4 linked regions of the Homo sapiens genome follow. The protein of the gene in region 2 interacts with the protein of the main gene of each other region in a pairwise test. Each region holds a gene or a part of one and is shown on either strand. Other genes may lie near its edges. The genes, in order: SCHIP1, SYCE1L, NOL4 and BOLL.

Region 1 (2,905 bases), on a different chromosome or scaffold from region 2:
GGTGGCTCTGGAATGTTGAATTGTTCATCTTTGCTTTAGTTTATGGTTCCCTAATCACTACATGAACATTAGCTAATTAAATCTATTTTCTGAAACTCTCCACTTATTAAGAAACAGTCTGTAATCTGCTTTAGACTTGGAATCTTCTTTCATGAGACCAACAGAATGGCTAAAAATTTGAAAATAGCAACAATTGGCCTTGGAGAAAGAGTAAGTGTAAACATCATTTGTTCACGTGGTGAATTTACTAAATGGAGTTTGATACAATCATAGTGCCCTAACAAGACCAGCAGCTATTAAATACTAAAGTGCTAAAATTCCAGATGAATCTCTTTAAGCAATAATAGAAGTGCAGGCTCTGATGCTACTGACCTTTGGTGTTCTTCGGATCACTCTCTCACACACACATACTCACAGACACGCACTCACGCTCATAATTTTCTGGGCAATTTGCCACTTGTGTGTCCTCTGGAGCAATTTGTTTTTTCACTGATAAAAGTTTCCTGGTGGGGAATTTAGTTGCAGAAGGGTTAAGCCAGTATAAGCCTTGTTAGTGAGCAAAAAGACATATGATATGAAACAAAGTTTTAATTTTTATTTTACATATTTATACATAAAACTTTCAAGGAACCCTCTGAATCCAACAGAATGTTAATAGCACATCTAAAAAGGAACTTCAGGTAGTCAACATTCACAAAATGTTGAAAACTGAGTAAAATATACATATTACGGAGAGCTACAACTTCACTACGAGGCAGGCATGTATTTTTTGACTTGTATAGCACCGTCATTTACAGTTCTTCTTTAAAACTACAGTGAAGAATGAAAAGTAGTCAATGGGAAAATACTGTTCCAACTTAAAATCTCTAAACAAATAAAAATAAAGTTAAAACTACTCTCTTTTATTAACCATGATTTGTGGTGGTGTCAGTACTGTACATTTTTTGTAACAATATTTTATTAAAATGCCTGATATTAAGTGGCACAAGTAAAAAATTAAAATAAATTAAGAAGCAAAGGCCAATCACTGGACATTAAGCTTCAGACATTATCAATGACTAACACTGATATTTGTTTCTGCGCCACCTTTAGCAACAGCATTTTTACAACCACAGAAGCAAAATAAATTCTAGCTTGTTCTCTGGTTGAATGGCTTCTTTTCACTTTGCAGGCATTTTCTCTGCCATGTGCTTCTGCTGACTTTCAGCATGTCTGTAAAACAATTAATACAATTATTTAGCATCATGTAGAGAGATCCAAACTGCTTTTCAATCAATAGCTACAGCATCCTGCAAACTGAAGTTCAGAGTTACTGACAGTGAAATAGATTAGAATCAAGAAAAAGTACCTTATTCAAACTCTTTGAACTCTGATTTGAACTCTTTAATTTTTACATATTGTGTATGATTCCTTTTATTTAGTAAGCCACTGGATGAATCTGAGACTTTTAGACATTACTACTTTTAAGAAGAAAAGTTCTGTTTGAAAATGAAAATAAATAAACATCTGGGATACTTTTATCAACAAATATTAAATATGTGTCTTCCATGGGTATTTGATGGTGAGCAAGACAGTGAGGTCTCTGTTCTCATGGGGAATATGAGACAAGAAAGGAATAAATAGCAAATAAGGAAATAACAGATGGAAATAAGCACGAAGCCAAAAGTCGAAACATGGTATTATGATAAGAGTAACTGAGTGACTACTTTATCTAAAGACCCATGCAGACACAGACCTAGATATTAACTAAGACTCCTGACAGAAACCTGGAGCCAAAAATCTAATTCACTCCTGCAAAAGCCAATGTCTAACAAATGGCAGGTCTTTGTGGATGTAAAGATATTCCACGTTTGCATGTTTTTCCCCCCAATTAATCCTAAGGGCATGGTCTTGGCAGTGAGGATAGGGTGAGTCTTCTTATTTATAAAGCTCTATTATGGGCCAGGTCCAGTGGCTCACGCCTGTAATTCCAGCACTCTGGGAGGCTGAGGCTGGTGGATCACCTGAGGTCAGGAGTTTGAGACCAGCCTGGCCAACATGGCAAAACCCTGCCTTTACTAAAAATACAAAAATTAGCTGGGCATGGTGGTGTGCGCCTGTAATCCCAGCTATTCAGGAGGCTGAGGCAGGAAAATTGCTTGAACCCGGGAGGTGGAGGTTCCAGTGAGCCAAGATCATGCCATTGCACTCCAGCCTGGGTGACAAGAGTGAAACTCTGTCTCAAAGAACAAACAAACAAACAAACAACCAAAACCAAAAACAAGCTCTATTATGACCTGTGAACCCAAAAATAGGCCAGTGAAGCAGCTAGACAGTGGGGCAGAGGTAGACAGTGGGGCAGAGGGGGAGGAGTGTGGCCAAGCTGTTGACATCACTTGAATGGTCACTTCTCAGAGAATGATGGGGTTTGAAGGCTGCAAAAGACAATGGTTTTAAAGGACGATTTTAGGAAATGATAAATTTGGCAAGATAAAAACATCTAGGGCTGTGGTTTCCAGCTATAATCAAACGTTTAGGAATAGTTTGTGTGTGCTGCCTGGACTTGGGTAGTCAGTGATGTCAAGTTGAACTCACTGGTTTTATGCAGAATGTGTCATATCAGGGAAGACAAACTACAAATACTTTCAGAAACAGGGGAGTGACAACAGTGTCCTTGCTACACTCAGCAGCCCATAAATAAATGGAACTATTCAACTAACAATAAAGGTACTCAGGAAAAAGTACCTTATCGATAGCTCTCCATTCCTTAAAAAATCTGTCCCCTTTAGCAGACCATCTTATAGCCCTGTTGATGTGTAACAAGAATCAAACATTTTCGTGACTAACTCATATGCCTCACTTAAGCAAATCCAGATCAAGATATTTTGATGCCCAGTGAACTTGATTCCACTGTAGCTAATTACAG
Region 2 (3,597 bases):
GGCAGCTTGTAAGTGCATCCTGAGCTGCAGTCCTCAAACTTAGCTGAAACAAACTCTCTATATTAAAAATAAAAATAAAAATCCTTTGAGCTGGAGCTGCAGGGTATAAAAAGAAAAAGAGAGAGGCTCATAATATCCAGTTGTCTTTTTTTGATGTTAGTAGCCATTAGTAACTATTACCTAGATCTATCAGTTCATTAAGAATTTATAAATTATGAGCTATTATTATTTCAAAGAAATTCATATGAAATCTTCCTGCCCTATTGTTCTGGTTAGAACTTCATAATGATCTTGAACAGCAGCATCAGCAAACATGCATTCTCTTCTCTCACCCCTGAGTTTCATTAAGGGGATGTTTGTGGTGGTGTTTTTTAACCCCTCAGGGAGAAGCTGACCCTTAGGGGTCCTGATTTATCTAGCACACACTATAAACCTCAAGGGCAAGAGACGGGGGCCCTGCTTCAGATGGAAACCTGTCTGTCATTCCATCCTTAGCCCCAGCCCACGGGTGTCTGCAGAGCCCACTGGGACTTCCTGCCTCCCTTCTCTCTCCCCTCTCACTCTCGCTGTGTCCTGTAATTTTGATTTTCCTTTCTACAGGGCAAGCCAAGTCTTTGAAGACTGAAGACTTGCTGGCAATGGTGATAAAGCTGCAGAAAGGTCATGTGTCTCTTTGTTTCTGAGCCTCAGCCTGGGGTTTCAAGTCAGAAAGACATGGTACAAATTCAGCCCCCTGAACTCACAACCTCAGGAAATTATCCCATTGCACTTTCTCCCTCTTATACAGTTTAATTCTTTGAACCAAGAATACAGTCCCACAGTTCAAAATTCAAGAAGTTTAAAGGAATGGAAAAACCAGTTCCCCCGCCATCCCTACTCCCTCCCCCCACACACCAGTCATCTATTTCCCTGACTCATGGGCAAGCAGCTATTGTTTTTCAATTCTTAAGTATCTTTCCAGAGATTTTTAAAAAATGCATTCATGGATGTATATTTTTTGTCCTCCCTTTTTACACACAAATGGAAATGCAGTTGGTTTTGCACCTTGCTTTGCTTTTTGCGGGAAACCTGGGAGCCAGTGTGCACCCAGTATCTACATCAGAGCTGAGGCAGTGCTGGCCAGAGGTGAGACCCCCAGCCCATTCTCATCTTAAAATACTATCACGTCAGTCTATTCCAAACAAAAGCAGCAGCCTCCCCGCTCCCATTCTGTGGCTGCCTGCAGAAGAAGTGCACTGGGACTGCTGCCTACGGTAAAATTAGGGAGAGAAATTGCAGGGCTAGAAATGCAGTGATCCAACCTGATCATTTCCAGTAAAACAAAGACCCCCAGAGATTTCTGTCAGTCATAATCAGCACCGTGGAGAGCACCCACTCTCCTGGAAATCACAGAAGCTGGAGTTGGTGACCTTGGAAAAATCCATGGTCTGAGTTTATTAACCCCAGAGTGTCTGAGGGGTCAGCAGTGAGATCTGGCAAGGGTTGGACAGCTTTTTGCCCCAGTTCCGTGTTGGCAACCTTGAAGCCAGAGAGGGATGAGAAGGAAGTCTTCTGCGTACAGAGCACTGAAACAGGGGCTATGAGAAGTTAGAGGTGATTCCCTAAAGGGATAGTGATCACCCTGTCACTGGGAAACTTGCAAGCTGCCACCAACAGTGTAAAAGCAGGGATTCCCCATTTCTCAGATGAGGCCAGTACCAGAGCCCAGACTGACAGAGTGACAACCCTTCCTGCCTGGATTTTGACAGGGCGGGGCAGATGGGACGTCTCCATTGGCTCACACCACACTCAGAGTTACATCTAAAGGCTTCCACGGTGGCCCAAGAGGCCCTAGTGATATCACTTCCCACTTCCCCCACCTTACTTTCTGCTACTCTCCACTTGCTCACTAGACCTGAGCCACACCAGCCCCTCACTGTTACTTTGGACACGTGCCTCACCCGCTCCTGCCACACTACAGGGAATTTGCACTTGTTCCCTCTGCCTTGTTGCACTCTGCCTGGAATGGGTCCCCCCTCCATACTCTTTACCCCCACAGAACTGCAGGACCTGCTTCCTTCTTCTCATCTGGGGCCTTTGCATATCCCCAGACATGCCTTTTACCCTTTTGCTCTTCAACACTTTGCCTCACTTTATTTCTCTTCACAGCAGTTACTGCCACCTGAATTGATTTATTTATCTTTGCTCAATGTCCATCTTGCCAACCCAGAATGCAAGCCCTTCAAGGGGCTCTGGCAGAGCTCAACACACAGCAGGCGCTCAATATATGCCGGTTAATTGATAGCAGCAGACACAGTGCTTCTCCGTCTGCCTTGGACAGCCAGACACCAGTCTTCTCTGGCTCACTCTTTCTTCCTTTCTTTCTTCAGAGGGAAGCCTGGAGCCACAGATAGAGGACCTGATTAGCCGGATTAATGATCTTCAGCAAGGTAAACTTGGGGACTTAGACTGGCCAGCTGGGGCGAGCAGGAAGTGACTGGATTTATAATGAATCCACCTCCTCATCTATAAAATCTAGGCCCCTCTAGGGTTGTTTGAAGATGACTGTGCAATGTCATATTTGCGAGAGAACAGCAAGGCTAGAGACTACACTCATACAGTGTCTTTTTCCCTTCTTGGCCCAGCAAAGAAGAAATCCAGTGAGGAACTGAGAGAGACCCACAGTCTCTGGGAGGCCCTGCATAGGGAATTAGACTCCTGTAAGTGGGGCCAAAAGAGGGACCCATCAACACTGCAGATGTTCCTGTGCATACCTCAGGGCCTTTGCACAGGCTGCTCCCTGGCCTACAATGCTCTTAGCTCACATAATCTGTATTGCCTTTCACTGTCTCATGTCATCTTTCAGCTCTCAGCTCAAATTTCACCCTGATAGGCCTATCTTGATGGTCTCATCTAAGAATAGAATCCCGCCCTCTCTTGGTCATTCTCACGCCCCTGGCTGATTTGTTTCTTAAGAGCCTTTATGTCCACCTGACACTGTGTGTGTATTTCTTTATAGCCATCTTTCTCCTCAGTGTAAACCTTGTACATTCTTCAGGGTCTTCACTCCTTCAACATTTACAAAGAATGTGGGCATAGAGGGGGAGAAGCTGGATCAGGATGGTCCTTCTGGGAGATGGTTGCAAGGGTGGCAAGAAGATACCTCACCTCTCCTAGGGCTGTACTACACCTTCTGTGTGGCTTTCCCCTTATATGAAGTTGCACTGGGGATGGCAATGGGGTGCCTGGAGGCAGAAAGTGTCATTGTGTTTTCCAGTGAATGGAGAGAAAGTGCACCTAGAGGAGGTCTTGGGCAAAAAGCAAGGTATTTACCAGTTGCTGTGTCTTCCTTATTCTACTCTTCCACCCCACAAAAGTCTATGCTCCTCAGAGCAGCCAGAGGAATCCCACTGAAACCTAAGGCAGGGTGCTTCCCTCTCTGCACAGATCTCTTCCTGGATTGCTACATCACTTGGAGTAAACACCCAAGTCCTCACAGTGCCCTCCAATGCCTGACATGATGTGGGGCCTATTACCTCTGGCCAACCCTGACTCCCCAAGAGCTCTCAAAGGGTCCCCTTGGTTCCTTCCCCACAGAGGCACTGAGGATCCTCCAGA
Region 3 (3,597 bases), on a different chromosome or scaffold from region 2:
CTCCTGTACTGGCAACTGTTTCCCGGTGCAGTATTCCTGGAGGATGCTAGAAAGGAGACGCTTTGAAAGCTATTCTATCTCTAATGGAGGTATATTATATTGAATTGAAAATATGTGCATGAAAAGTTTTTTTTAAAGCATTATTTGGAAGGGTCTTTTAGGTTTGGAAATCAGTTTATGGTTTCCTGAGATTAATTAGAAATAGTTGTTTGAAGGATGTATATTTATTTTAGAATTTATATAGAAATTGGGAACCAAAAGTAAAAGTGAAATGGAAACACATATAAAAGTTCTGTGGTGGTTTTTTTTTTTTTTTTAACAATGTACTATTGTTGGGAGATTTCTAAGAGTTGGACCTATAAAGGTGTCTTCTCCTTTAGCATGTGGCACTACTAAAGACAATGGTGAGATTATTGTCTGGCTTTCCTAAATAATGAGGACTAGATTGGCATGATTTAGAACTGAGGTTTATTTACATCTGGATGAGCCAGAAATCTGATATACAGAATGAAGTGCTTTGATTAATTTGTATTGGGAATAATATCAAGAAATGATGTAGAAAAATAATTTATTGTTAGAATTCAAAACATAAACATGCATTTTCCTTTGGACAAAACTGAGCTAACTGAATGGATAAAATCATTTAAGATATCTTTACTTAAGGTATTATTTCATAATATCATGTATGTTTTAAAGAAACACTGTTAGTTGGGAAGTTTATTTTTCATTCCTTTTATGTTAAACTTAGGTCCCTCTAACTGTCAGATAGCTTCACGTGGATATTGGTACAATGAGTTTATACTCATATGGATTTGACTACACCCACTATATGTGTTAACATATGTGTCCTTTTAAAGGATTGACTATTTTAAATAACATAAATTCTGAACAATTTTAGAGATACTAAGATCATCATAAATGTCAGTTATTCAAACTAGCATTCACGCATTCATATACCACTATTTTCAGTCAAAAATTTATGCAGAATAGCTAAAGAATTACTGCTAAGACATCTAGTATAGAGTGACAACTTCAGGGATAATATTAAAGTAACACGTGTTTATTCAGTAAAGATTCCATATATTTATGGGAGAGAATATAATTCATCAGGTGATTGTTAGATAATGGTTCTCATGTAGTATTTAAGAGCTCTGCTTTTCATTCAAGCCTGTTTTGAAATATTGAAGAGGTTTTTAATTTATGAACTCGTCTATTGCTCTTTATAAAATTTTTATACTGCTCCCGACATAGAATTATAGGCTCCTCCTTCTCTGAGAGACAGCCAATCATCATTTCAATGAGTTAAAAAATAAAGGATCCCCTTTTATCATGTGTTTCCCTACATTTCAAATTATTCCTTCCTTAATGATACATTGATTTTTCTTTCCGATGGTAGGAGTACAGTCACCAAGAAGACAAAAATATATTTTCTCTTAATTCCAAGGCATATATTGATCAAAATAAAATACTGTATTTGAATGGTATTTTCGTGCAGACTAAGAATCATTCTTAGCTGCTTGAGGTTTGAGGGTTCACGGCTGGCTTTGCTGTCAGTAAGAGATGCTTTGCTCCTGATGTTGCAGTAATCCACTGCTGCTGATAATTAGACATCATTACTACTGCGAAAAGGGAAAGAGAAAAGGGGAGAGGACAGGCTGAGGCTAATTATCTACTTTAGTTTAATGAAAGAAAGAGAGACTGATGGCACCTGGGAGGTTATACTAGAACAGAGTAGACACACCACATAGACTTAATTGAAACAAGACTATCTTTAAGTCTCATAGTTAAAGAAGCTTGGTTCTACTCTTATTTTCCCAAAAGAAATATAGCTTTCCAACTACTCTTCCCCCTAAAGCCTAAACTTAACTGATGATAAAATCGAGCAAGTTACAACTGACTTAAAATAAAAATATTGACTACTGGAAAGGATAAATATGTCCTTTAATATTTGTCCTGGTCATGTCTAAACCTGAGGGGACATATCTGCCACTGATGTTTAGACTGCTTTTTGATGGAGTAGATACTGTTTGGTCACCAAGCAACAACATCCGGCAACTCAGCCATTTTAGGTCTGGTGTGGGACCTGTGCTTTTGCGAGCCCGCCTGCACTGCACACTCACGCGCACGCGCATATGCAGTTTGTTGAGCAACCCATCTGCTTTTTAGATAGTACCACTGTTATTTTTATACATTCTTTCATTAAAAGTGTCAGAAATTTAGAAGAATGAAATGATGAATGACTTAAAACAGTTCCGAAAACGATATAGCAAATGGTTGACATTGATTACATCCAACTTTTAAGCAGCGATAGTTTTAAATTCACTTAACTATGGTAACTCTGTTTTACACATTTGGTAGTTCCAGTGTAGTTTGTTTTTAGAAGCTTTTGATCCTGATTAACGTTTTCTGGCAACAATTAGTGGAAACATCACACTTGCAGTTTAAACTACCAGAACACATTATACCATTTGATATTGTGAATGGTAAACTTAGAAAAGGAGAAAATTTATTAAACGCTCTTTTTAAAAAGTCCTCTGCATTGTATAAAACATTAGGAATTTGGTAAGCTCATGTTTTTGTCTTTCAGTATCAAGCAAAGAAAGTAATGAATATGAATATTGAAACTGTATAATCAAAAGATGTAATACTTTTCTTAACCTATATTTGTAGGAACAGACACAAAGGTCTAAATTATGCCTTTCTTATATATATTTCTTTCTTATATTTATTCCAATACAGGTCTTAAATGAATTTCCATCCAGAAAGGAAAATGCATTATCTTTAGTTGTGCTATTTACAAATGATGATTTATTCAGTTCTGCAATCTGTAGCCTCAGATTTCATATTGTTCTTGCTGTGCATACTACTAATTGATTACTGTACAGTGATTATAATGAATATTCATGGACTGACTCATAAACAGTAACTGTTTTTGTTATTTTTCTGACTGTGGTTTTGGTCATAAATCCTTTATGCTACATCAGAGTGAAAGAAATAATACCCCATGAGGAGTCCTGTATACCTTTCCACCTGGCCTAACTTTATGCCTAAGGCACCTATATTAGGCCTTGATCTGGAATCTGCTACAGACCCAGTTATTTATCATGATACTTTGTATCTATGACACAAAGACAAATCATCATAGTGGTCACTGAGATGGAAGCACATTTTTGCTTCTATAGTGGACATTGCTGTTGATAGCCCATGCATTTTTCTTTTCATTAAAGTACTTTGGGAGATCCTGTAGCATAGGATTTGGGGGTCAAATAGATCCCGAGAATGAATATCAGCAATGTGGCTTATTAGCTGACTTAGTGATTCTTTGTGGAGTTGTGAAGAATAAATCATCTATGACAAGTCCCCAGCATAGGTCAGCTCGCAGGGAACAGTGGGGACCAGTAGTAAAGGCCATTCTGGCTTGAGTATTAAGGGGCAGGAGATTTCCTCTGAATATAAAGAGGAAATATGACCCTGTTCGTGTATGAAGACTATCCCACACTTATTTCTTGAGATACCAGTTTTTTATTTTTCCGTTGGTTCTTCCTTGTCCTATTAGTAGCCACAATAGGGAGATGGGGCAAGATTTGGCACTCGTAT
Region 4 (3,597 bases), on a different chromosome or scaffold from region 2:
CCTTTTGATTTCCTTGTGTGTGTGTGTGTGTGTGTGTGTGTATTTTGGAGGGAGGAGACACTGTAATATTTCTTAATTTGTTGAGAAGTTATTCTTGCATGGGTGGAGGGACCATTCAGTGGTAGGCAGCAAGCACTTAATGTAAGTAGCAGATGTACATTAGCTGAGGAATGAGAAGCAAAAGGAATCAGATTCTTTTGGAATTGTATCCCTGCTTTAGGCCATAGAGAGCTTTATTTGAAAACAGCTGACACCAAGAAATGTCTGTAGGTTGTGCCTCAGAGACCTAATTAGGGGACCAGTATGAGAAATATAATTCTAGTGAGAATGATTTTTAATTGCTATATCAATGATAATGAAAATTGAGAAGAAAGTAATAGACTGTGTCTTTAAATGTGTATAGAGCTGTTTCAGTGGAATGCTATGTGTACAAAGCCAAATTTCAGAAAGGAAAAAGATAGTTTACATAGTACACTCACTTAAGGAGTTGGACTGCAAAGTTAAAAGAAAATAGATAAGGCAGTAAAGTATTGTATTTACTTTCTTGAAAGAGAGACGAGACATACATATTTATAGGCATAAGAAAAGGGACCCATTGAGGTGGTATTGGTGAGAAACAACATTCGACAGATGGATATGCTGGAAGAGATGGGATTCTACAGAAAGGTTATTTATAAACAGATGAGATACTTCCTCAGAATGCCAAACAATATTAAGGTGAAGTGAGATTTACCTCTTTTGTTTGACTAACAGAATTTGCTATGTTTTGGTAATACCATTTTTTAATCATTGGAAAACATACATGGAAATGTAAATGTAAACTGTATTTTATGCCTTTTCCACTGGGTGGCGTGTGTGTTCTACCAAAAAAATAGCGTAAAACTAATTCCTTAACTTTTTAATGTTTGGGCAAATAGATAAAGAGAAATTCCTTTGTTTAAAAGAAGAAACTTTGTATATGATCCAGTAATTATGAATTGAAGAAAATAGTGAAGATATTTAGCATTACTCAGAAGAGTTTACTTAAGTTATCTAAATAGCAATTATGTTTTGAGAGATACATTTTTTCTTTCTTTTGTTACTTTTTTCTCTACCTATTGTGGCTTTTTGGACATGGAGCACATCATTTATGTGTATTTGTATCTTCAACATTATATGAATTGTGCTTGAAGTTAATTATGTATGAAAAACAGATGTGAAATCTGGGTTGTACATATTTTTAATTGATATTGTTTGGGAATATACTAATAATTACATTATCAGTTATATGTGCTAATAATAATAATTAAATAATACATTTACATTGTCATTCACCAATATAAGAAATTTTATTGTGTTGAAATTTTAAATTTTTTAGTTATTTTTCTACTTTGATTTCTCTTAGCCAAACTTCTATTAGTTTAAAAGGAGATTATTGCTCTGGATTGAAATTTATTGCATCCCCAATTTTTAAGCAACAGCATGAATCTCTTGTGCTTTTCTTTCCTGCATACAGCTGAGAGCTGAAGCTGTTTCAAGATCTCAGGGGTTTTTTTTCTTTTAGTTCCTGACTAAAAGTGACAGTGTTAGGCTGTGAATGATTCTTCTAAGATTCCCATGCTAGTGCAGCATAGAAACATGCCTACTCCTACAGTGGCCGATGATTTAAAAACAAAATTTTTAAACATTTTAATATAATTAATATAACATTCTAAGAAAATGATTAATTAGTAATAATTAATGCATTTATTTAGGTATGGTTTCGTCACTTTTGAAACACAAGAAGATGCACAAAAAATTTTACAAGAGGTATGATCTTTTGGTGTATTTAACTTCATTTCTGGAAATTTTGTATTTGAAACTAATCTTTTCGGGGTTCAAATACAATAATCAACTGCTTTTTAAAAAAGGTTTGCATCTTAAGATTGGCATTGGTCTCTAGGAAACTTAATCTGCAGAAGAGCAAATTCCAAAATCACTACAAGTATGGTTGTGAAACTGTAATATAATGTTTCGCTTTATTTACTTAAATTAAGAACTTGGGGATATATCTTTTGCGAAGTGTTAATAGCATTTTGAATGTTTAAAAAACACTACAAATGTGGATTCCAACAGTGAGGTTATCTGAGATGATTTCCCTCCTGTGAAAAACATTATATAAACTAAGAATATTCACAGAAAAAAAGCCTATAGCCAGCAATTCAGTGTAATAACTTTAAGTTAAGGCAAATATAACATTTAACTTTTTTAGAAAAAAAGTAGAATTTGAATTGTATGTTATTAAAATCAAATACAGTCAATTCTTGTTATTTGTGGCAGTTATGTTCTCTAACATTGCTAGGAACACTGAATTAGCAAATGCTGAACTCCTCTTTCTAGGGGAAGTACAAGGTAATGTTCCCAAGAACCTCTGGTCACAATATTGCCATCAACCTATCAATATATAACCTTGTTTTATATGGTTTTCCATTTAAAGGCATCATATATAACAGATTACTGGTTCATTAACATTGAAGCCATGGCCAATAGCACTATAATTCATGCTTGAATTAAGCACATCTAATATATATATTCTCCATAATGCCTATGACAGTCTTCTTGTGCTAGCCAGCACTTCAACAATACACATGGGGGCCATTTTAAATAGCCAAATCACCAACAAAAAGCACAAAAATGGAGAAAACATGGCACTAAATAGAAAGCTCTCTCTTAGAGTATGAGCACTGGAACAAGAAGAAAGAATATCGCCTTATTTGACCTCAACTGGGAGCATGCGCATCAGGCTACTCAAATTTTCCGCCGCTCTTCACGTGTCCACTAATAACCTCAAAATTGCCACAAATATTAATTTTAGGATTACAAGTAAATTTTAGCAAGTAGGCAAATTCACAAATACAGAATCCATGAGTAATGAGGATTGACTGTATTACAAATGGAGAAAATGGGGAATTGCGGTCAGACCCAGATCTATTTCAGTCTGAAGACGGCTCTTTCCCACTATTCCTTGCTGCTTTGAAAGAATATTATAGTCTGAATTTTTGAAATTCTTTCTAACTAGTTTTTCCTTATTGATTTTATAAATAATAGTGCTAAAATAATAAAATAATTTCTTTTTTCTTTATTTTAGGCTGAAAAACTTAATTATAAGGATAAGAAGCTGAACATTGGTCCAGCAATAAGAAAACAACAAGTAGGGATCCCTCGTATGTATTGAGAACTAATGTATTTTTAAATATTTTTGCATGGTTCTTTTTTGAAATATAAGACTTTTTATAGAACTTTATTAAAAGATCATGTTTCTTTCATCTAATAAAGTTATTTTAGCAAAGTTGGTGGAAAAACTGAATATTTTTGCCACAAAATAATATATCTCAATTTTTTTGGCTGGGAAAAAATTTATATACATAAAGATGCTTAAGTATATTCCATGTAGTTACATCATTAAAGGAAAAAAAATCTTTCGTGATGAAAATATCATTTAATATAGCAAAAGTAATTAGAAGTAATTTAATAATTTAGACTTACTAATGAGAAAAATTTTAATTAGAAACTAATTTAAAATTAATCAGAGTAAAAATATTGAAAGTGAAAACATAGAACTAATATCAGAAACTCGCT

Evidence for each region.
Region 1: the proteins of SYCE1L (region 2) and SCHIP1 interact in a two-hybrid assay, tested with the Homo sapiens proteins (one large-scale study listed by BioGRID).
Region 3: the proteins of SYCE1L (region 2) and NOL4 interact in a two-hybrid assay, tested with the Homo sapiens proteins (one large-scale study listed by BioGRID).
Region 4: the proteins of SYCE1L (region 2) and BOLL interact in a two-hybrid assay, tested with the Homo sapiens proteins (one large-scale study listed by BioGRID).

Annotation. Positions count from the first base shown.
Region 1 is NC_000003.12:159,895,030-159,897,934, reverse strand, and holds the end of SCHIP1 (schwannomin-interacting protein 1), read right to left. Parts: intron 1,213-2,905; coding exon 1,161-1,212; 3' UTR 576-1,160; downstream 1-575. Other genes in the region: IQCJ-SCHIP1 readthrough transcript protein, read right to left, coding at 1,161-1,212.
Region 2 is NC_000016.10:77,205,841-77,209,437, forward strand, and holds part of SYCE1L (synaptonemal complex central element protein 1-like), read left to right. Parts: intron 1-600; coding exon 601-660; intron 661-2,369; coding exon 2,370-2,429; intron 2,430-2,624; coding exon 2,625-2,699; intron 2,700-3,256; coding exon 3,257-3,304; intron 3,305-3,576; coding exon 3,577-3,597. UniProt on the Homo sapiens protein: May be involved in meiosis.
Region 3 is NC_000018.10:34,218,325-34,221,921, reverse strand, and holds part of NOL4 (nucleolar protein 4), read left to right. Parts: intron 1-3,597.
Region 4 is NC_000002.12:197,775,250-197,778,846, reverse strand, and holds part of BOLL (protein boule-like), read left to right. Parts: intron 1-1,733; coding exon 1,734-1,788; intron 1,789-3,106; coding exon 3,107-3,182; intron 3,183-3,597. UniProt on the Homo sapiens protein: Probable RNA-binding protein, which may be required during spermatogenesis. May act by binding to the 3'-UTR of mRNAs and regulating their translation.